7 linked regions of the Homo sapiens genome follow. The protein of the gene in region 5 purifies or fractionates together with the protein of the main gene of each other region. This does not show direct contact. Each region holds a gene or a part of one and is shown on either strand. Other genes may lie near its edges.

What was found.
Region 1: the proteins of TMPO (region 5) and LIG3 purify together in Homo sapiens (affinity purification with mass spectrometry; one large-scale study listed by BioGRID and IntAct). This does not show direct contact.
Region 2: the proteins of TMPO (region 5) and ATXN2L purify together in Homo sapiens (affinity purification with mass spectrometry, with the first as the bait; one large-scale study listed by BioGRID). This does not show direct contact.
Region 3: the proteins of TMPO (region 5) and COLGALT1 purify together in Homo sapiens (affinity purification with mass spectrometry, with the first as the bait; one large-scale study listed by BioGRID). This does not show direct contact.
Region 4: the proteins of TMPO (region 5) and RRBP1 purify together in Homo sapiens (affinity purification with mass spectrometry; 2 studies listed by BioGRID and IntAct, with this or other methods). This does not show direct contact.
Region 6: the proteins of TMPO (region 5) and YBX3 purify together in Homo sapiens (affinity purification with mass spectrometry, with the first as the bait; one large-scale study listed by BioGRID). This does not show direct contact.
Region 7: the proteins of TMPO (region 5) and MKI67 fractionate together in Homo sapiens (co-fractionation; one large-scale study listed by BioGRID). This does not show direct contact.

What each region holds. Positions count from the first base shown.
Region 1 is NC_000017.11:34,987,012-34,990,511, reverse strand, and holds part of LIG3 (DNA ligase 3 isoform alpha precursor), read right to left. Parts: intron 1,047-3,500; coding exon 849-1,046; intron 1-848. UniProt on the Homo sapiens protein: Isoform 3 functions as a heterodimer with DNA-repair protein XRCC1 in the nucleus and can correct defective DNA strand-break repair and sister chromatid exchange following treatment with ionizing radiation and alkylating agents.
Region 2 is NC_000016.10:28,835,366-28,837,732, reverse strand, and holds the end of ATXN2L (ataxin-2-like protein), read right to left. Parts: coding exon 2,334-2,367; intron 2,188-2,333; coding exon of another isoform or gene 2,185-2,187; coding exon 1,975-2,184; intron 1,801-1,974; coding exon 1,468-1,800; 3' UTR 1,408-1,467; coding exon of another isoform or gene 1,253-1,407; 3' UTR 1,006-1,252; coding exon of another isoform or gene 933-1,005; 3' UTR 501-932; downstream 1-500. UniProt on the Homo sapiens protein: Involved in the regulation of stress granule and P-body formation.
Region 3 is NC_000019.10:17,565,649-17,569,148, reverse strand, and holds part of COLGALT1 (procollagen galactosyltransferase 1 precursor), read right to left. Parts: intron 1,744-3,500; coding exon 1,609-1,743; intron 641-1,608; coding exon 436-640; intron 1-435. UniProt on the Homo sapiens protein: Beta-galactosyltransferase that transfers beta-galactose to hydroxylysine residues of type I collagen. By acting on collagen glycosylation, facilitates the formation of collagen triple helix. Also involved in the biosynthesis of collagen type IV.
Region 4 is NC_000020.11:17,658,243-17,661,742, forward strand, and holds part of RRBP1 (ribosome-binding protein 1), read right to left. Parts: intron 2,287-3,500; 5' UTR 2,266-2,286; coding exon 354-2,265; intron 1-353. UniProt on the Homo sapiens protein: Acts as a ribosome receptor and mediates interaction between the ribosome and the endoplasmic reticulum membrane.
Region 5 is NC_000012.12:98,522,090-98,525,589, reverse strand, and holds part of TMPO (thymopoietin), read right to left. Parts: intron 1-3,500. UniProt on the Homo sapiens protein: May help direct the assembly of the nuclear lamina and thereby help maintain the structural organization of the nuclear envelope. Possible receptor for attachment of lamin filaments to the inner nuclear membrane.
Region 6 is NC_000012.12:10,716,824-10,720,323, reverse strand, and holds part of YBX3 (Y-box-binding protein 3), read left to right. Parts: intron 1-1,180; coding exon 1,181-1,244; intron 1,245-2,202; coding exon 2,203-2,236; intron 2,237-3,500. UniProt on the Homo sapiens protein: Binds to the GM-CSF promoter. Seems to act as a repressor. Also binds to full-length mRNA and to short RNA sequences containing the consensus site 5'-UCCAUCA-3'. May have a role in translation repression.
Region 7 is NC_000010.11:128,096,159-128,099,291, forward strand, and holds the end of MKI67 (proliferation marker protein Ki-67), read right to left. Parts: intron 3,098-3,133; coding exon 3,032-3,097; 3' UTR 501-3,031; downstream 1-500. UniProt on the Homo sapiens protein: Protein that associates with the surface of mitotic chromosomes and acts both as a chromosome repellent during early mitosis and chromosome attractant during late mitosis.

The sequences.
Region 1 (3,500 bases), on a different chromosome or scaffold from region 5:
ATCCAGGAGTTTGAGACCAACCTGGGCAAAACAGCAAAACCCCGTCTCTACAAAAAATACAAAAATTAGCCAGGCATAGCGGCACATGCCTATAGTCCCAGCTACTTGGGAGGCTGAGGCAGAAGGACTGCTTGAGCCCAGGAGGCGGAGGTTGCAGTGAGCTGAGATTGCACCCATGCGCTCCAGCCTGGGCAACACAGCCACATTTTTTGTCTCAATAAATAAACAAACAAACAAACTCAAAGAAGCAGAGACCAAAAGATATCTATATATCGCTGCCCATGCTCCTATAGTACCCTGTGCATATCGCTATAGTAGGAGACAGCATGGAGTTCAGAGGCTGGTGGATTGTGTCTGCCTCACCTTTAGCCTACAGATGAACTCTTGTTGGACAGAGTGGTTAGTTTCACTTCACGTGCCCAGTGACAAGGACATCAGAGATGCTCATCGACAATTTGTTAGATAAATGAAAGAAACAGAGTTGGAAGATTCTATTCCAAACTGTGTATATGGTTCACAAAAACCTAATTAAATATGTAGGACAGTAAATTTTCTAACTAGTCAAATAGGATGGGTTCTTCTGGCCTCCTAGGAGCAGAATAAGGGGAGAGGAAGACAGATGCCAAAGTGCTCTGAGAAAAACTGGCTACATAATTTGTGGAGTACAGTGCAAAATGCAAATGCGAGGCCCCTTGTTCAAAATTATTAAGAATTTCCAGATAGCACTACAGTACAGCATTAAACCAAGCATGGGATCCCGGGCAACTATACAGCTCACATGCCCAGGAAGGCAGCCATGGCCTTGAGCTCTCCGGAGGAAAGGCCTATTCAGGATGCTCATGCCACACCTCCTGCTGAGCCTTTCCGAAGGAAGTCCTGGATGATCTGGGTCTTCGTGTTGTAGCTAGGATTATCGGCCACCATGGCGCATAACTTTCGAAACTCCCGTAGCAGACAGTCCTTATGCCTGGGGTCACATTTGCTTGAAGACAGACTTCTCTTAGGGGTGGGGCTCGAGGGGGCTTCCCCAGAGTTGTTGGGCTTGGCTGTTGGAGAAACAACAGAGATGAATTCATTCTGCCTTTCTGAGAAGAAAGAAAGGGAAGGAAGGAAACTAACAGATATTCTGCTGGTATTTAGCTTTATTTAATCTCCCCGAATAGACTTTTGGGGTAGATGTCATTATATCCATCTTACAGATAAAGAAATGGAGGCCAAGTAATTTTCCCAAATCTTACAGCTAATAAATAATGTTAAAGGAACAATGGCCTCCTTAGACCCAAGCAAAAGACCAGACTGATGTGCATCTCTTTATGTGAGCACTTTACTGAAGAATAAAGACCAAAGTCATGCCAAGAATGATCAGGACTGGCTGGGCACAGTGGCTCACGCCTGTAACCCTAACACTATGCGAGGCCAACGCGGGAGGACTGCTTGAGCCCAGGAGTTCGAGACCAGCCTGGGCAACATAGTAAGATCCTGCCTCAAAAAAAAAAAGTGGTCAGAAGGATCTCAGAGCAATTGTAAAGCTGATCCCAGAAAAGCTGGCATGAGAAAGGGGTAAGAAATCAAGTACGTGTTAGACAATGTGAAATTACTGCTATCACAGGTTGTCAGAGCTGGAAGAAGCCTTAAAGATTATCTAGTTCAATGTTCTCTTACTGATAAGGGGACTGAGGTCTGAGAAGAGCAAATGACTTCCTGGCCCACTTCCTTGTTGAAAGAGCCAGGACAAAGACACTACTAAGAAAGTCAGATTCCATTAGTACACTCAACATCCCTACCCCTCGCTGCTTCAACTTTTCTTTTCTTATTGTCAAAATAAAACCCTGCTCCCCAAGGAGCAGTTATAAAAAAAAAATAATACATTTTTACAAAAGGTGGTCAAGGGGCAGGGATTTCCTCCAGACACTTAAAAATAATTATGTGCAACTCATCGGTGATTCCCTTTCACCTCCTTGTGACCATTTAAAAAGCAAATTTTATTCGGCAAACTTGTGGCAGAGCCATTACTAAGCTAACTGCTGTTGTACACTGTTTCTTGTCTGGGCTTTGTAAATTATAAATCCATCCTCATCTCTGATCCGGAATCTAAATATGATTTTAGGGGACAAAATCTCCAAAGTGTCAATGTTCAACCAGGTTGCAAGAACTAAAACACTCTCTTTCTCTCAACTCCTCCCAAATTCCATCCCCAACACCGGAGCCCTTCCAGAAACATGCTGTCCTTATCATCACCTGGACTCTTCTCTATCTTTGGCCTACCAGCAAACAACAAACCAACCAACCTCAGAATTTTTTTTTTTTTTTTTTTTTTTTTTGAGACAGAGTCTCGCTGTCGCCCAGGCTGGAGTGCAGTGGCGCGATCTTGGCTCACTGCAGGCTCTGCCCCCAGGGTTCATGCCATTCTCCTGCCTCAGCCTCCTGAGTAGCTGGGACTACAGGTGCCTGCCACCACGCCCGGCTAATTTTTTTATTTTTAGTAGAGACAGGGTTTCACTGTGTTAGCCAGGATGGTCTCGATCTCCTGACCTCGTGATCCGCCCGCCTCGGCCTCCCAAAGTGCTGGGATTACAAGTGTGAGCCACCGCGCCCGGCCCAGAATTTTTAAATAATAAAAATCCTATAGAGCCAGGCACCGTTTTTGCAATGTTATCTCTTACAGTCCTCATGAGAACACTATGGGGTAGATGAGGCATGGAGATATGATGAAGCTTAAACAAATAAATACACAAACTCACTGAAGCAGAGGGGAAAGTAATCTATATATTGCTGCCTGTGCTCCTATAGCACCCTGTGCATAGCACTATGGTAGGAGAGGCCACTGCTGCTTCATAGACAGAGGCTAAAGAGAGGTAAGGACGTGCTCAGGGATCTGAGCTGTCAAGGACCAGAACCCAAGTCTTCTGACCTCAGGTCTAGGCTTCTTTCAATCACATAAAATGTCTTTCAATCTCCAAATGACTTCTAAAATAAGGCCAAGTGGTTTGGCTTTATTTATTTTCTTCAGCTGAGTCAATCACAAGAATGTCTCCAAACAATAAAAGCAGCAACACAGTGTAGTATAAAAGAGCACAAGTACTGAAGTCAGACTTCAGTACAAATACTAACTCCATGATAACCCTGAACGTCAACTTTCTCAGTCATAAAAAGGGCCTAATAAAAAGTACTTCCTAAATAAAAGTACTGTCTAGGGTTAACTGAAGAAGAAATGAAACTACATATATAAAAGCCCCTAGTCCAATGCTGTCTGTTTACGTAAGGCCAATAAATGATCCTGATCTTCTCAACTCCTATCTATACCACATGCCCCAGCAAAGTCTTCCTGAATCCCTGTCTATGAAATAGTAATTCTATATTTTATATAAAAGAAACTATATATGTGTGTATACACGTGTGTGCATGTGTGTATTTTAGTGAAGAGAACAGGAAACTTAACACTTTATTGTTCATCTGTCCTACAAATAATAGCCACAGTCCTCCCCTTTAGGAGATGGGAT
Region 2 (2,367 bases), on a different chromosome or scaffold from region 5:
AAAAACTGGCCACCATTGGTGTGCAATGGAGTGATCTCAGCTCACTGCAACCTCCGCTTCCTGGGTTTAAGTGATTCTCCTGCCTCAGCCTCCCAGGTAGCTGGGATTACAGGCATGTCCCACCACGCCAGGCTAATTTTTGTATTTTTAGTAGAGACAGGGTTTCACCCGAGTTCAAGTGATTCTCCTGCCTCAGCCTCCCAAGTAGCTGGAATTACAGGCATGTCCCACCACATCTGGCTAATTTTTGTATTTTTAGTACAGATGGGGTTTCACCAAGTTGGCCAGGATGGTCTCCATCTCTTGACCTGGTGATCTGCCCACCTCAGCCTCCCAAAGTGCTGGGATTACAGGCGTGAGCCACCATGGCTGGCCACTGGACACGATTTTTACATGGAGGTGAAGGAACAGGTCACAATGCAGCACCTATCAATGCCACAAAAGACTGACAGCTGTCACCCCACTCTAGTCTCCAAGGAGGAAACTCCAGGCAGGTTAAGTTAGTTTAAAATTTTATTTTTTTTATTTATTTTTTAATATTTTTATGTAATAAAAAGTAAAAGTCCTTGTCCAGCCATCCTCGTGGGGCATCTGTCTGTCTCTCACACAGGTCACTCAAGTTAATGGGAAAGAAAGAACAGGGGGCCCAAGTCTGAAGTTATAAATAATAGAAAATAAAAGATCTTCCGTCTCCAGCGGGGGAATAGATGAGAGGATGGGAGGGCAAGACTGGGTGGGGACGGGCAGGGGCAGAGCAGGAACCCCCCACCCCTGCTGGACCCTGGCCCTGCCCTCTGTGAGGCCCCTCCCATTCAAGGTGCTTGGCAGGAATTCCCCAGCTCCCCTGGGGAACGGGGGGATGGGGGGCTGGGAGTGGTCCGAGCTGCTGGGGGAAGAGACATAGATCACTCTTCCCTCCACTCATGGAGGTCTCAGGTCGCGGCCAGGACAATCTTCAGTTCCCCGGGGGGTGGAAGGGGAGCTGCTGGGAGGGATGAGATTGAACTGGTTGGAGGGGAAAGAGAAGAGAGCAGGAGCATTAGAACCCAAGCAGCTGTCCCTTCCTCCAATGCCGTCCAGTGGGGGCGTGGGGGTGTGTCTGGGAAGGAGCGGCCTCCTCAAGGTGTCTCGGGGGCTGTCAGAAGCACAGGTCAATCGCTGTTTCCCAGTAAGCCAGAGCCCTCACTCATGTGCCCAGCTCAGCCCCCCACACCCCAGTCTGGCCCTGTCTGCTGCACTGACCTTACCTCGGCTAAGTCAGGAGACAGTCGGGGTCACTGAGAGCTGGGGAGGCAGTGGGGAGGGGGGCTGCTGGATCACAACTGAGCGAGGACGGAGGGAAGCAAAGGACAGAGCCAGGAGCAAGCCCCTGGCGGCGGCGACTGTGGCTTCTGCCCACCCTACATACTTCACAGACAGGTGCAGGTCGGCGGGCGCCCTGTGGGACAGCCCTGCCTCCAAGACCCCTCACTCCCCACCCAGAACCCGTGCATCCTGCCCCACCTGCAGCCCCTCAGCTCTTCCATGCCAAATTCCCCCAGCTAATGAGAACTCACGAATCCTGTCATCGGCTCCTCCTGGAAATCCAGGCGCCTGGCCAGGCTGCTCACCTTGGGGGTGTCCGATGTAGGGGTAGGGTGAGGGTGTGGAAGCTGAGAGTGCAGGCACCCCACTCTGGGGCACCGCGCCTTGGGGGGGCCCCCCATGACTCTGGGGTGGGTGCAGCAGCATCACCTGGGGCGGGTGGGGAGCCCCAGGGTGAGGGGGCGGGGCTGCTGTGATTCCAGTTTGGACATGGGCCTGTGGAAAACAAAAAAGTAGCCGGGAAGACCACAGAATCCTGAAACAGACTCTGAGAGCCAGAGTTAGGGAGCACTATGGCAAGGGTGGCACCAGGGACTTGGCAATGGGATGGTCCCCATGGCAGACGGGCCCTGGCAAACAGACCCAGAAGTGGGACAGCTGGGCTCTTACCTGGGTAACATGGGCCATGTTGGTGAAGCCGTGGGGCAGCTGCTGGTGGTGGATGGCATACACAGCGGCTGGCTGGGGGAAGCTGCTCTGAGGGGACTGGGCAGAAGGTCCCGGTGGCAGAGAGGGCGGCGTGCCTGTCAGGGCCCCTGGGTGGTACAGATTCTGCTGTGGCTGTCCACTGCCCAAGTGTGGGGCCTGCCCCGCCTGATGCTGCTGGGGAGGGGAAGGTTGAGTGCCACACAGGCCAGCAACTCGCTGGCCCCCAGTCCTCGCCACTCAGAAATGACCCCTAGCTCTATCCCTTCTTCTGGCCACCCATTCCTGCACCAGGACCACTCAGCACCCCCCATGGCAGGCACCTGGACAGGACTGGGGGCCGCATGCTGGGACTGC
Region 3 (3,500 bases), on a different chromosome or scaffold from region 5:
CTTCCGCCTCCCATATTCAAGTGATCCTCCCGCCTCAGCCTCCCCAGTAGCACCACCACGTCCGGCTAATTTTTGTATTTTTAGTAGAGATGGGGTTTCACCATGTTGGCCAGGCTGGTCTCAAACTCCTGACCTCAAATGATCCACCCGCCTTAGCCTGCCAAATTGTTGGGATTACAGGCATAAGCCACTCTGCCTGACCAACCAATAGATCTTAAAGAGCTAGGGAATGAAGCTAACCAGCAAAGCCAGGGCTGGAGAGAAACGGGGTCCTGGAGACATTATCTGAACACCTAGATACAGCTGCACCTGAAGTCAGCCCTGCGCTGCATTGTTTGGGTTCTGTGAATCTTCAGTGTGTTCTGAACTGGCTTAGTGCAAAACCCAAAGAACCAGGCAGATGCCCCTGCGATGGCAGACCCCTCATGTACGTACCTGCCTGCTTGCAGGAGAAGGCAAAGACGATGATGTCGTCAAAGGACCAGGTGTAGTCAGGGTGAGGTGGGTAGAAGGCCAGGTTCCTGGACGCCGCCTTCCGCAGGTCGATCAGGAAGGTCGAGTGCACCATGGGAACTGCAAAGCAGCCCCGGCGGTCTCGCTTGCGGATAGGGATGTAGGCAGGTGTGCGCTTGTAGTAGCCCTGTGGGGAGAGAGCGAGAGTTCCGCGTAGGGGTCTTGAAAGGTGAGGATGGAGACCCGTGATAGTGGGCGGCATGAAACAGGACCAGACAGACAGCCAGGCACAGCAGTGTGCGCCTGTGGTCCCAGGACCCCAGACTCAAGCCCAGTGTGGGACCTGTGGCCAGGCATGGCCAATAAGAAAGAGCCTTGTATTTTCCCAGCTTCAGTAATGAGTTCAGAGGTAGTGTGGAGAGGAGACTAGCAATGGCCCAATCAGAATGGATGATGGCTAGACGCTGCTGGGATCACTCTCAAGCTGTCTGAGAATGAACCCACCCAAAGGATGGAGAAAGACAGTTATCCAAACACCTGGATCAAGCCATGCCTGAAGTCCCATCCTGACACCACCACTTGCTAGCTGTGTGACTTTAGGCAAGTCACTTCCTCTCTGTGTTTCTGTTTCCACCTCTGGAATAGCATGGTGGGGGACAATCAAGGACCCTCTATTCTTCCCTCCTGTCTGGCCTCAGAGGGCTGTTTAAAGATTACCATAATGAGTTTTTGTTTTGTTTTGTTTTTGAGACCAAGTCTCACTCCGTCACCCAGGCTGGAGTGCAGTGGCGTGATCTCGGCTCACTGCAACTTCCGCCTCCTGGGTTCAAGTGATTCTCATGCTTCAGCCTCCCGAGCAGCTGGGAGGACAGGCATGTGCCACCATACCCGGCTAATTTCTGTAATTTTTTTTTTTTTTAGTAGAGATGGGGTTTCACCATGTTGCCCAGGATGGTCTCAAACTCCTGAGCTCAGGCAACCCGCCTGCCGCAGTCTCCCAAAGTGCTGGGGTTACAGGTGTGAGCCACCGTGCCCAGCTTCCATGATGATTTTTGTAAAACACACACCACGAGGTTGTGTGACAGTAAGTTACACTCTAGCCACGGCACCCCCCTGCTCAGCCCAGTCCCCACAGTCCCCAGGCCCTCACTCTACCTGGGAAGTCATTCCACACCAGAAGTTGGAGTACGCAGCCCGGGAATCCAGCATGGGGGCGACCACCGTCTTGTTCTCAGCGATGAGCAGGCTCAGTGTGTCAGGGTTGAGGATCAGGTTGTCCGCATCTACAAACTGCAGAACACCCCACAAAGCATCAGCATGGGCTGCCAGGTCAGGCTACCATTCAGAACAGCTGGGGCAAAGGCCAGTGCCCTGGGGGTCTGGCAAAGACCTCTGGAAGCACCCCCTACACCGGATGAAATGAAGCAGGGACCCCGTTTTGGGGGCCTGCAGGATCCCCTGGATCATGGAAATAAAGCAAAGGTCTTCAGTTCCTTCAAAGAAAATTCTAGGCACTGAGATAGCCCTGAGAAATAAATGAACAACCAATGAGCAAGAAGGTAGCAAAACCTTTTTTTTTTTGAGACGGAGTCTCGCTCTGTCACCCAGGCTGGAGTGCAGTGGTATGGTCTCAGCTCGCTGCAACCTCCGCCTCCTGGGTTCAAGCGATTCTCCTGTCTCAGCCTCCCGAGTAGCTGCGACTACAGCCGTGCACCATCACACCCGGGTAACTTTTTGTATTTTTAATAGAGACAGGGTACCATCATGTTGGCCAGGCTGGTTTTAAACTCCTGACCTCATGTGATTCGTCCACCTCGGCCTCTCAAAGTGCTGGGATTACAGGCATGAGCCACCATGCCTGGCCTACTATTTTACTTTTTCTTCATTTTTTATTTTTTAAAGGGATAGCATCTTGCTGTGTCACTCAGGCTGAAGTGCAATGGTGTAATCGTAGCCCACTGCAGCCTGGAGTTTCTGGGCTCAAGTGATCCTCTCATCTCAGCCTCTCAAGTAGCTGAGCGTACAGGCACACGTCACCATGCCTAGATAATGTTTTCATTTTTATTTTTATGTTTGTAGAGATAGGATCCCTCTACATTGCCTAGGGTGGTTTTGAACTCCTGGGCTCAAAGCGATCCTCCCCATGGCCTACAATAGTTCTGAGATTACAGGTCTGAGCCACTGCACCTAGACTAAAATTAAATATATATATATAAAATCACACATAGAAAATGATTAGGTCCGGACGTTCCCCCTCTACCAGGATGTAAAGACACAGAAGTCATGATATATCACAGAACTACCAGAAGGTTTTTTGTTTTTGTTTTTGTTTTTTTGAGATGGCGTCTCCTGTTGCATAGGCTGGAGTGCAGCGGCGTGATCTCGGCTCACTGCAACCTCCACCTCCCATGTTCAAGCAATTCTCCCTGAGTCTCCCAAGTAGCTGGGATTACAGACACATGCCACCACGTCAGGCTAATTTTTGTATTTTTTGGTAGAGATGGGGTTTCACCAGGTTGGCCAGGCTGGTCTCGAACTCTTGATTTCAAGTGATACGCCTGCCTCGGCCTCCCAAAGTGCTGGGATTACAGGTGTGAGCCATTGTGCCCGGTCTGGATTTTTTTTCTTTTACTGCTGGTCCACAGAGATGCTTTCTGTTACCCAGGCAGTATCGTTTAGAATATTTGGATTAACTGCCATGAACAACAACAAAAACTAGAATTCCAGTATCCCCTGGCAACGTGAGAATACCATTTCCACATGGCAACCTTCAGTTGCAGAGGGGAGGTGGCTGGGTCTTAGGACAAGCCCTGTGGTCATGTTACACACCCCATCCGGTCCCTCTGGATGTTTGAATCTGTGACCTTTGAATATTAATGCAGAACAAACAGCCAGATCACTGTGGCAGTTCCTCAAAAAGCTAAACATAGAATTACTACATGATCCAGGAATTCCATTCCTAGGTATGAACCAAGAGAATTGAAAGAAAGGACTCAAACAGCTTCTTTGTTTGTTTGTTTGTTTTTGAGACAGAGTCTTGCTCAGTC
Region 4 (3,500 bases), on a different chromosome or scaffold from region 5:
AATGCCCTTTTGTGCCTCTGTTGTAACTATGAAGGGCCTCTGCCCTGGAGGGCGCCAGAAGGACCACACATGGAACTGACCTGAGCTCAACCTGTAGCAAAGAGTCACCAACCCAGTTAAAACCAGATTGAGGCAGAGCCACCAACCGAGAAAGCTCACATCTGCCAACCTCCAGAAGCATGAGCAACAATAAATGACTGCTGTTGAAGGCCACTGAATTTTTTTTTGAATGTTTGTTACGCAGCCTTATTATGACAATAGCTGACTGATACAGGTGGCACTCCCCGAGAGAATCCATAAGTCATTTAAAGACAGCCTTTCCTTCTAAGTTCATAAAGAAATCAGTTACTTACCAGGCTCACCTTTTTTCTTTGAACCAGACTTCTTCTTGGCAGGAGCCTCTTGCTTTGGTGCCTCTGGGCTCTGGGCCACATCTGTATTTCTGCCCTGGACAGAAGCTGACTCTGTCTTTTTACCCTGATTGGCAGCTGCGTCTGCCTTTTTGCCTTGGTTGGGGGACCCTTCTGCCTTTTTGCCTTCACTGGGGGACCCTTCTGCTTTTTTCCCCTGGTTTGTAATACCCTCTACCTTTGTGCCCTGATTAGCAACCGAATCTGCCTTTTTGCCCTGGATGGGAGCTCCCTCTCCTTTTTTGCCTTGGTTGGGACTCCTTTCTGCCTTTTTGCCCTGAGCCCCTTCTGTCTTTTTACCCTGATTCTGGGCTCCCTCTCCTTTTTGGCCCTGGTTCTGGGCTCCCTCGGCCTTTTTGCCCTGGTTCTGAGCCCCCTCGGCCTTCTTGCCCTGGTTCTGGGCCCCCTCAGCCTTCTTGCCCTGGTTCTGGGCCCCTTCTACTTTTTTGCCCTGGTTCTGAGCACCCTCGGCCTTCTTGCCCTGGTTCTGGGCCCCCTCGGCCTTCTTGCCCTGGTTCTGGGCCCCCTCGGCCTTCTTGCCCTGGTTCTGGGCCCCCTCGGCCTTCTTGCCCTGGTTCTGGGCCCCCTCGGCCTTTTTGCCCTGATTCTGGGCCCCCTCGGCCTTTTTGCCCTGGTTCTGGGCACCCTCAGCCTTCTTGCCCTGGTTCTGGGCCCCTTCTACTTTTTTGCCCTGGTTCTGAGCCCCCTCGGCCTTTTTGCCCTGGTTCTGAGCCCCCTCAGCCTTCTTGCCCTGATTCTGGGCCCCCTCGGCCTTCTTGCCCTGATTCTGGGCCCCCTCGGCCTTCTTGCCCTGATTCTGGGCCCCCTCGGCCTTCTTGCCCTGATTCTGGGCCCCCTCGGCCTTCTTGCCCTGGTTCTGGGCCCCCTCTCCCTTTTTGCCCTGATTCTGGGCCCCCTCTGCCTTTTTGCCCTGGTTCTGGGCCCCTTCTACCTTTTTGGCCTGGTTCTGAGCCCCCTCGGCCTTTCTGCCCTGGGTTGGGGCCCCCTCCACCTTTTTCCCCTGGTTTGGGGTTGTATCTACCTTTTTACCCTGGTTCTGGGCCCCCTCCGCCTTTTTGCCTTGGTTTGGGGTTCCTTCTGCCTTTTTGCCTTGGTTTGGGGTTCCCTCTGCCTTTTTCCCTTGGTTTGGGGTTCCCTCTGTCTTTTTGCCCTGGTTTGGGGTTCCCTCTGCCTTTCTGCCCTGGTTTGGGGCTCCTTCAGCCTTTTTGCTTTGATTCTGAGTCCCCTCCGCCTTTTTGCCCTGAGTAGTGCCAGTGGCTGGTGTGTTGCCCTTGGCACCCACTGGGGGCACCACCACCATCGGCACCTCCTTGGGAGCAGTTTCCAAGATGGCAGCCTTCGAAGTGAGAACCTGGATGGAATTCACTACAGAGCTGACAGCTGGTTCCACTTTTGCCACTTTTTTCTCCTTCTTCTTTTTGTCCTTGGGGGAGGAGGCCAGCTTCTCCTGGGGCATGGCTGGAACTGTGGCGACAGGAGCAACGATAATGGGGGGCTGCACTGGGGTTGGAGCCACAGCCACAGCAGGAGCCCGCACTGGTTCTCGAAGGAGGACAGTCACATTGGGGGCTGGATCATGATCAGGTATCTTCCCATTAGGTTTCTCTTCCTTTTTCTTGGTCTTTCCTTTCTTCTCCACTGTTTTCTCCTTCTTTTTCTTCTCGACTTTCTGGTGGTGAGTTTTCGCCATCTCCTTGCGCTGGTTGGCTAGGGCTTCTTCATATGACGTTTCCTTCATGGAGAAAGTCGACACCAGGAAGATGCCAATGGCAGAAACAACCATGAATCCTCCAAAGACCACAACCCCCAAGGTTTGAGTGTCGTAAATATCCATCCTGGCTTGCTTTCCTTTCACCTGTCAAACATACATGGAGGTTACTATTTATAGAAATCAAGGCCTTCAACAGTTTCTATCCCCACCCTACCACCAAACTTCAGGTTTCACTAATTCTTTCTTCAGGCTAATAAATTCAGAGAAGAAACAAACCCAGGCACTCTCTGATGTCCCACATTCTCACCTGCTCCTCTTTAGGAGTGAGCGATTCGTACCCAAGGCATGAGCAGTCCCCATACAAAGCAACAGCAGAGTCAGAGCAGAGTGGAGGCCTATCTCTGGAGCACACACGCCCAGGAGCCTCAGCAGCCATGACCCTGATGCAAGATATTCCCCACCCAAGGTCAAAGATGCACAGGAGCACAAACACAGGCCAGGTGTGAGACCATGGGGAGTGGTGGAGACTGTAGTAAAAACACCCGCCCCCACCTAAAATTAGACAGTGACACTCTGTCATGGCCGATTGCCCTAGAAATGTGATTGCTGAGTTGGAAGATGTTTTGATTTTTCATGTTAGGCCAGACACTTTTAAAAAATTTTTCTCTCAACGTGAAATTGACTGATTTAAAAAATATGTGAACCGAACCAAACCAAACACATCTGCAGGCTTTCAGCCACAAGCATTTTAGCCAGCAGGCCCACAGTGTGCCATCTCCACTCTGTTGTTTCCCTCTTCCCCAGTGCCAATAAATGCTGCTACCCAGGATCAGAGATAAAAACTTCTGCATTACAATCCTGAAACGTGTTCAAAAATTCAGTGAGGGAAAATAGCCTTTTGCCAGCAATAGCTCCTGAGGAGTTATGGAGCCTGCAATTTGCATGTTGGGAAACAGGAAGAATCAGTCTTGGGAGGCCCAGAAGATGCCAGGTTTGGAATTTCACATCCAGAAGCTGCACAGAGGGTGAGGAGACAGTGTCAGCAGGCCCCTCTGTCAGACAACACTCCCCAAACCATAAGAATGAACAACACCATTCTCACTGCCTATGGACCAAAGTCCAATGGGTCAGAGGCATCCAGGTTCATACACCTTCCTGCCACAGCCCGGGCTAAGTTCGACTTCACTGAGGAACTCCAGGAGGTGTATTTATTTGGATACATTCAAGCCAGTCCCGAGTCTCTCTAAAGAAGATCGATGGAATGAGCAAAGAGAACACAAGGGTAAGAAGGGGTGGTTAAGGGGAGGTAAAAGGAGGTGGAAGAGGAGAGGAGGGGAAGTGGACAGGCCTCCCCCAGC
Region 5 (3,500 bases):
TTTGTATTTTTAGTAGAGACGGGGTTTCAGCATGTTGGCCAGGCTGGTCTTGAACTCCTGACCCCAAATGTTATGCCCGCCTGAGCCTCCCAAAGTCCTAGGATTACGGGCGTGAGCCATGGAACCTGGCCTGAAATACTTCAAATAAAGCAAGATATGAGAAATTCTTTTTAAAAAGCTGCTAATGGCTAATCATTCTATAATCAGAAGCCAAAAAACCTTCACCAAAAAAATAGCTGCTCATAAGAACAATTATGTCAACTTACGAGAAATCTTAAATAGACGGCTGTGGAGAGTTACAGTGAGAGTACTTTTAGCAGGCTTTAATTCACATACATTGCACTGACCTAGAACTGTCAGGCTCATATCTGGAAGCAACCCACACCATAATATCCAAATAGTTGCCTAGGGTCTAAGAGTTCTAAGACTTATTTCTTTCAAGAAAAGATTTAATCAAACAAACTTAATCCTATGTTACTGACTTACTCAAATTTTCCAAAAAGTGCAGTCAGGTAGTACAGAAAAACTAAATAATGCTTAAAATAAAAATAAAACATGGAAAAACAATCAATCAGGTTCAAATTATTTGTACATAATCCCCACTACCACGAGAATGTTCAAATTTACTATCAATAAAACATCCAGGAAATTCCAACTTTTCAAACCCGCCTGAGAGGTTTTCAAGAAATCTCTTTGGGCCAGGTGCAGTGGCTCATGCCTGTAATCCCAGCACTTTGGGAGACCAAGGTGGGTGGATCACTTGAAGTCAGGAGTTCGAGACCAGCATGGCCAACACGGTGAAACCCCGTCTCTTTTAAAAATGCAAAAATTAGCCGGGTGTGGTGGCACATGCCTGTAATCCCAGCTACCTGGGAAGCTGAGGCAGGAGAATTGCTTGAATCTGGGAGGCGGAGGTTGCAGTGAGTCGACATCATGCCACTGCCCTCCAGCCTGGGCGATAGAGCAAGACTCTGTCTCAAAAAAAATCTTAACTCTTTTTTTTTTTTCTTTTTCAAGGTGGAGTCTCTTAACTCTCTCGCCCAGGCTGGAGTGCAGTAGCGCCATCTTGCCTTGCTGCAACCTTCTGCCTCCCAGGTTCAAGCAACTCTCCTGCCTCAGCCTCCTGAGTATCTGGGACTACAGGTGCATGCCACCACGCCCAGCTAATTTTTGTACTTTCAGTAGAGACAGGGTTTCACCATTTTGGCCAGGCTAGTCTCAAACTCCTGAGCTCGTGATTTGCCCACCTCAGCCTTCCAAAGTGCTGGGATTACAGGCGTGAGCCACAGCACCCAGCCCAAAATCTTAACTCTTGTTACCTCTATTTGGAAAGGTCTTACCCATTTCTGATTCTTCACCTTGGGCCAGATAATCTGTTTGTAATTGTGTAGCCCAGGTGATCTGGATGCAGCATTGAGGCAAGCAACAGAAAGCAGACGCACTATCATCCTCATATTCTTATTCCAAGCATCTAAACATTTCTAAAAAGACTGATACAGGAATAGCCCCCTGATAAATGTTTTGTCAAATCTGGGGAAGGAAAAAGTAATTTATTTTTGAAAATCCATTTCTTATTAGAAATAACAGGCCTATCAAATCTAAGTAAAAACCAATTCTCGGCAGTGGCTCATGTCTGTAATTCTAGCACTTTGGGAGGCCGAGGAGGGAGGATCTCCCGTTGAGGTCAGGAGTTTGAGACCAGCCTGGCCAACACGGTGAAACCCCATCTCTACTAAAAATACAAAAATTAGCCAGGTGTGATGGCACACGCCTATAGTCCTAGCTACTCGGCAGGCTGAGGCTGGAGAATCACTTGAATTGGGGAGGCGGAGATTGCAGCGAGCCAAGATTGCGCCACTGCACTCCAGCCTGGGTGATAAGGCCAGACTTCGCCTAAAGAAAAAAAAGAAAGAAAGAAAATCAATTATATTTCCTTCAAACATAATGAAAAACATCAGCTGAACAAAGATATCTTAAATAAGTGACCAACAAATCTACATAAGGTAAGTCAGATAAATTAAAACCAAAAACGTGATTTTTTTTTTTTTGAGATGGAGTCTCACTCTGTTGCCCAGGCTAGAGTGCAGTGGCATGCCCTCCATCTCCCAGGTTCAAGAGATTCTCCTGCCTCAGCCTCCCAAGCAGCTGAAATTACAAGCGCGCAACACCATACCCGACTAACTAATTTTTGTATTTTTAGAAGAGACAGGATTTCACCATGTTGGCCAGGCTGGTCTCGAATTCCTGACCTCAGGTGATCCACCTGCCTCGGCCTCCCAAAGTGCTGGGATTACAGGTGTGAGCCACTGCACACAGTCAAACATGTGGTTTTTAATCTGTCAGGAAAAAAGTTCCAGAAAAGTGATGTCATTTTATAAATCTCAGATTTAATAAGGATAAAAAATTAGGAGACAGTGTGCTGTACATGATTAGCAGTTTCAGTCAGGAAAAAGGAAGCATCAGTTGCATTAAATTCTGCCTCCAGAAAGCTTTGTTCCTTTAAGTAGATCACTTAAGAGTTTCACTCAAAAATAGTACCTACTATGCTACCCGATGATCTCTAACGTATTTTTCAACTTCAAAACCCAACAGCTCTATGATATCACCGATGAGCTTCTCTAATTCCTTTAATCTCTACCTCTAGTATAAAGATGTTGAACCATAACAATATATTCTAGTGGGCACTTATTATGTATTACGTACTGAGTTGTGTTCCAAGTGTCTTTGCATTAACTTACAGAGTCCTAAAAATCTATGGAATAAAATGCTAATATCCCCATCTGACAACTCAGAAAACTGAGGTTCAAGCATGCTCTTCACTAACTCAGGAAATCTGCATGCTATGATATACATGTCACTTTCACTTATCTACCTTATTCGTTTCCCAAAATTATATTTTAGTAACATTGCACTATATTGCCCTGACATTAAAGACAAAAATTCAGAAATCATTTAATGGCTATTAATTACTAAGCACTAGACACTTCACATATGCAATGGCATGTACTCCTCAATCTGATTAAGTAGCTATTAGGTTATTCCTCTATTTCAGGTGAAAATAGAGGATCTTAGATTAAGACACTGTTCAGTGTCATATGAATAAGTGGCAGACCTGGAATTTGAATCTATAACTCTATTATTCACAAGTCTGTAAACTTAACACCTTATTATACAGTGGTGGTAAATTTGTGATTTAATTAACATTTCCTATTGGTAGCATGCTTTTATGTTCTTTTCCAGGTCTTCAAATATTTCCTATTGAGAATTCATAATTTGGCCAGGAGCAGCAGCTCACACCTACAATCCCAACGCTTTGGGAGGCCTAAGCAGGAGGATCCCTTGAGGCCAGGAATTCAAGACCAGCCTGGTCAACATAGTGAGACTATCTCTATAAAAATTTTAAAAATCAGCTAGGCATGGTGGCACACACCTGTAGTCCCAGCTATTCCAGAGGCTTGAGCCCAGGAGTTTGAGGCTGCAGTGAGCTATGATCATACCAC
Region 6 (3,500 bases), about 88 Mb from region 5:
AGTGTATCAGTCTAGCAAACTTCAGAACTACCCCTGCCTACAACAGAGCAAGTCTTAATTACTATTTTAGTTTTGAATTTAAAAGTGAAGCCTTATTGTTTATCCTTGGAAATTATAAACTTTGTATCTTATGAAAAGACAGTATGGATTGATGTTAATAATTACTTTCATTCTCTACTGAGGCTTTTTTCTTTATTTTTTCTTTAAGGTAATCTATTATCAGGTTTCCTGTTTCATTGAGTCTTTATAATTGCTTTTTGCACTTCCTGAATTGAGACAGGGGCATTTCCTAGAAGTACTGAATTTGTCATTCATAATTGATTCCAAAGATCATATTTGAAATAGTTGAGATAAATATAAACCTACAAAATACAAGTTACATGAAGTTTTATTTTGTTTAGATTCCTTCTCTCAATTCTGCTAAAATCAGGCATTGTAGAGAAGTGGTCCTGCTCATGAGGTAGAGACAACCATTATGGTAAAGAGGGGGATTTTATGGAAAAATGCTTAAGTTTGATTCGCAAAACTGTAGAGAGCAAGGTAAACAAAGAAACAAGCCCAAATTCATCATGTGATTTGAAAAGACCTGTTATATCACGTCTCAGAGTGGTAAGTACAGAACTGGATTGAGACAGCAGCAGTTCTATAATTATTCTTGACTCCTCTGATGAGCTCCCACTTGGCGACTGGACAAGTTGCTTTACGTCTTTGTAGATTGCCTGTTAACAAGGAGCCACCTTGTTTCTCATTAAAGTTTGCCTAATATTTCCAAGTATGAAAGTGATGTGTTAAGGTCTTTCACTCTTTTATTGTAGCTCCTATTTTGAACTTATAAAATTTGTCTAGGTTAAAACTTGGAACATTCATCTTGAACATTCTTTTTTTCCTTCAGTGTTTCTCAATTTTAATGATTACAGAATTGTATAGACTTATAACCACTCCTTATCTTGCGAGTTTCCTGAAAAGTTGAATAAGGAAGAAAGGTTTAGTCTTCTGAAAAGTATTTCCTTATGAGATCTTGGCTTGCTCCATTTTCTTTTTCTAAAGTATTTTGGAATTAAGCTTTTAATGGTTTCTTTAGGTATGTTTAGGCTTTGTCTAATGTTATCAAGATCTTAGTGATATGAGCTATATCTCTCTGTAGGTCAGATACTAATTTATCTGCTTAATCCTATTTTAGCCACCAAAGTCCTTGGCACTGTCAAATGGTTCAACGTCAGAAATGGATATGGATTTATAAATCGGTATGTGTGTGTGTATATTTGCATGTTTTAAGTTTATACTTACATTGTGGCACCAGGAGTTATAAATCCCTTAGCCTTCATTAATGGCTTATATAAATTTTTTAGGTTTCTAAGCACTGTAAATATTCTCATTTCTAAGCTACTGGTTGTTAAATATTACTTAAAATACATTTCCAGGACACTAATAAATAACTTATTTCATAAAATCTAGTCATTAAGGAAGAAAAGGAGGGGGAGATAAAATCAGAAATGGGAAGGGCCTTAGGATAAATGAGACCATATCCATAATTTCACAGATGGAGAAACGGAGTCTTACACTGGTTAAGCAGCTTTCCTAAGGTCACCCAACTAGTGAGTCATTGAGCTGGATCTTTAACTCACTTCTGGTCCAGTCCTATGTAGAAACTGTAAACTGTGGTAACTTTTAACCGTACAGGAATGAGAACATAACTACAAGATGCTGGGAGTATTATGAGGTTTTCACATGATATCGGCATTTTCTTTGCTTTCCCACCCCTTCTTAAAGTCCTCCAATTTCTTGTCTCCTTTGGTGGGGTGGGGGTGGGGGGCTGTTTTAAGTTTCAGTGTAAGGAGAGCCTAGTTCACAGCTGTGCCCTGTCCTTTTAACTGTCTTGCTTTGCTTTTGCTGGGAGGAAAATCTGAGGCTCTGATTACACACCATGTGATTCAGAAAGAGACAGAGGAACGGGATGTTTCTGTATGTTGAGTCTGTGAGCTTGGATCTAAGCACTGTGGCAATGTGGAGGAGGAAGGTGGGTGGCCTGTGGAGTTAGAAATGTTTAACAAGGATTTTAGGTGTCTGAATTGAGTGTAGAAAATAAGTGAAAATATATGTTGTGTTTTGAGGACTTGGGAGTTAAATTCATAACACATAGGTTCTTTTAAGTTTTTCCACATACGTACTACCTTTAATTGTGAGCTTTTTGTCTTTCAACAGAAATGACACCAAAGAAGATGTATTTGTACATCAGGTAAGAGGGATTATAAATACTACATTTGCTATGTGAGGAGAGGGTGTGTAATCTTCTGTCAGCCCTTTCCCAAAAGTAAGTCCTATGGATTATTATTTTAATCTAAACTCTTTCTGTGATTTATTTTGCAACAGGAGTTCAGTTCCACATTTTAAGATTGGCAAATAAGTTCTTCTACCCCATCATATTAACTGTTTTCAAATAGTTTTATTTTTGCAGTTGTATAAAGTGATATTTGGTTAGACCACTTTCTAATTTTTAAAGCCTTTGAGTCCTTAGCAAAAAAAAGAAAAGTCTGTTTCCCTTTTAGCATCCTGTTCTCCTGATGTGGTTCCTCCTTAGTGTTTGCCTGGAGCCAATCTGGCTTCTGCCTGGGTAGGTATTGGTTAAAGCTCCTCTGTCAGAGCAGCTCTCAATTGAAGTAAATAGCGCAGAGAAGCAGATAGTAAGATGAGAAAACTTCCAGTTCCCAGGGTAGCCCTCACTCTTGTTAAATGAGGCATGTTAGGACGTGTCCAGGTCAAAAGCTGCAAATTCCCTTAGATTTGCAGGAAATAGAGGAAATGGGTAAGATATGGAGCTTCTCTGCTATAGGTGCCTCAGTTTTTCTTTGCTTTATTAGCCTAGGATGTTATTTATTCTGTTATTAATATGTCCTAGACTTCCTTTATAAAATAGGTTAAGAGAAGGAATACTATCCTTAGTGTTCTTTTTGTTTATTTAGTTTTCAGTGAATTGTCTGAAATATGCGTTCTCAGAGTATAACAATAAGGAAGATAGAGCAGCAGGTACTAATGCCAGCCCATTCTCTTGCAGTGCAGAAATCCAGAATACATCTGATTTTCTGTGTTTTTGTTTCCTTCTGTTTAGGTTTGTGTGTGTATTGGAGTGACCGTAGGAGTTGGAGATAGTGGTATCTAGCTGTGGTTTCTATTGTTTATATTTCTACTTGACTGGATATATCTCAGTTGCATTTAGATAATTTGAGTAGATTTATTTTGTTCAGATACAGTGACTTTTAGGGTCATAATAGTGTTGTTTATAATACTTGGAGGTTTGAGGTTAATAGACCTTTTAGGGTAAGAATTCTGAAGACTGCTAGAGTCAAGGTCCTCAGAAGTTGCTGTATTGGTGGCTGGCTTTATTAGCCTGTGAGTATATGACCCGATTCCAGCCCCCGTGAGGTTGTGTGGTGAGTCACCTCAATGTGTTGAGGCTTGCCCAGTTTAACAGGAAAAAGGGAGCGAGCCGGCAGGGAGGGGCT
Region 7 (3,133 bases), on a different chromosome or scaffold from region 5:
ACCGAGCACGGCTCTCCCTCCCTCCTCAGCCTCTCAAGATGGTAGATGCACCCACCTGCAAACTTTTCTCTCCGACAGAAAGGCCTCTTCTTCAGGACTAACTGACCTACCGCAGGCTACTGCCCCTGGAACTTGCCAGCAAATTCACTCCCGGGATCCATGTCAAATCAGGGTTGCCAGAGGAAAGTCAGGGCATGTATTTTCATCTGCTGACTTGGGGCAGCCCTGGGTCAAATCCCCATCCCTCAACTCAGCACCTCTGTTGCAACAAAGCAGGCACAGCTGCGGTTGCAGGTAGTTCTCGAGATACAGCAGGCCATTCCTGCAGGACTAAAAGCAGCTGCGATGACTTATTGGCCAAGAGAGAAAATGACCATCCAGCCAAGTCCTTGTAGAAATGAAAATGGAACGTAATGAACCAGTCTCTCTTACACTGGCCTGTCTGCCCCACCCACACTTAGTTTCTTTCCCCACTCTCCCTATAATAAAAATACCATGGGTTTTAAGACCATTTCATCACATACTTTATTGGACATCTCCTGTGGCTGGTCACTGGGATAGAGTAACCAGGAAATGCAGTCGGCCCTCATGAATGAACAAAACTTACAACCCCAGGAGGGGAGCCAGAAACTCAATTAGTGGCTTAGTTTCCACAACACTACGTGCTACAAAGAGGTACAGAACAATTCCAGGCAAACTAAGAACCTGCCCCAGCCTGGAGGACAGGCATGGGGGTGAGGGAACCCACAGGCAAGAAGCCTCCCTTAAGCTGAGCTCAGGACTGGATGAAATGATCTTGGTGGGGCAGGAGGGAAAGTTCCAGGCAGGGAAAACAGCAGGGAGTGTGTGGTGGTTGGAGGTGCCTGCCTAAGGGAGGCAGGAGATGGTAGGTACAGAGTTAGTGTAAGAAAGCCCAAGAGAGGCTGGGGGACCAGATCCCACAGGCCCTGGGAGGCGAAAAAGTAAAAACAGCTTGTATTTAATGGGAATGTCCTATTACATGGAAATTCACTTGGAAACTGAAGCTCAGAGAAGTTACCATACCATGGTGGAAATGGGTGGGTATTTGTTCTCAAATCCAGTCAGCCTAGGGGAATGGGCAGTATTTGTCAGATCTCTCCCTCCCCCAGTACCAAGGAGGGTTGTGTAGAAGTGGTGTTCATCTATTAAACACGGGGGTAGCCCTTAAATGAACATTTTTAACCCATCATCAACAGCCCTGTAAAATGAAAACCACCCTTAGCGTGCTCTTGAAATACTGTACTTACCAGGGTGAGAAAAGGTGCTGACATACTTCAGCAAGATTTCTGGTTAGAGCTGAACTCTAAAGGATTTTTCTACTAAACAGAATATTCCACTCCACAGGCATATGGCTGGATGAAATTTTTCTATGTGAGGTTCATAATTACTACTAAGTCTAAAGTGTTAGAACAACTTGATCATAGCAACATTCCTACTGAAAGTTTTGAGGTTGGCCTACGTAGAAGGAAGCATTTATGCCTCACACCTTCCAAAGTGCCTCTGCTAAGAGCCACTCTTCCTTGAACACCCTCCCCTGTTCTGCCCTGGTGCAATCCCTGTACCCTTTGCAGCCCTGTGAAGCCCTCAGATGTCCCCTCCCTGCCCCTTTCTATTCCCTCCCTCAAGCAGAATGTCATTCTCCCTTACGATCATGGATGACGCTGTGAGAACCCTATCATGGCAGCCAATATAGTACAAGTCAGTACCGCTGATTTCTGCATTCATTCAGCAAGTATTTATGATGTCACCTGGCTCCCCGCCAGACACTGGGGAAACAAACGTGGAGACAGGGCACTGCCCGCACAGGGCACATTTTGGGGGACAGCTACCCTGTCTGGTGCACCATCCTCACCTGCACCTGGCAAGGTGGGTGAATGGGGAGGAATCCAGACAGGTGACCTGGGGGATGGCGGGCTATTCTCTGATTTGGGGAACACAGAGAGGACAGGGGGCAAAGTGGAAAGTAAATGAAGATGAACGAGTTATATCTACAAGTCTGAAGCTGGAGAAAGATGTCTGGGCTTCAAAGGAGATTTCGGAGGCAGCGGCTCACAAGGAAGCGATCCTGAAATCGTGGCTGAAGGTGCTGAGTGCTCAGTCTCTCCAAGGATGATGATGCTTTACAGAGTACTGGTGTCACTTCCTGTACTGGGTGGCATCGGGCTGCCAGATAGAGTCAGAAAGAAAACAGGCGGGAGCAGAGCCAGTAAACTTCCGAAGCTTTCAATGACAGGAAAGCTGGAGATTAGGAGCCAGTTTGAGGTCGTGATGGCCCACAGCCTGGGACCCTGAGATTCCGCGGGTGGAGAATGTCTCAGGTGAGAGCAACCCTAGTTAGAAAAGTATTCCCAAGAGACCAAGGCAAGCCACGAGTCACTCCTTACAGAAAGTCACTCTTGGTCCCTAAAGATGTGCTCACGAGTCATTCTCCAAAGCACAAAACTTTATTTTCAGAAAGGAAAGGACATCAAAAATAGGACTGTCCTGTGCAGATGTCCAATAGCCTTAATTTGGGGACCAAATGCCCCCGGCCATTGGAAAGACAGATCTTGTAAGCTCCATTCATCCGTGCGCTCATCCATTCATTCGTGTTTACCGAGTGCCTGCTCAGTGTTGGGACAGACGAGGATAGTTGTTCCTGCCACCGTGCCCTGGAGGACATAGGCAAACAAACGACGACACAGTGTGGCAAGTGTCACAGTTAAGGCTGCTGTAGGGTGGCTGTGGGTGGTGACAGACCTCAAGGCTTCATTCTGCAAAGCTGAGGGCAAACCTTGGCCCAGACTCCTTCACAAAGCCCCCGGTGTTCAACTATTCTCAGTCCAGGAGCCCAGCAGTGCTCCCAGTGGAGTTTATGAAGCCGATTCAGACCCAGCAAATCCAAAGTTTTCTTCCCTTAAGCAGACTGACAGCCTTACTTACAGAATTCACTTGTAATTTATGACAAAAACTGCACTAGAACTTATCACAAAACTAACTTTATTATATTTTTCCCAGTTCGATTTTTCTGTCAAATATCTTCACTGTCCCTATGACTTCTGGTTCTTATTTTCTTGACACACACATTGTCCTCAGCCTGTGTGGGAAGAAAAAAAATAGAACTCTTAAGTAA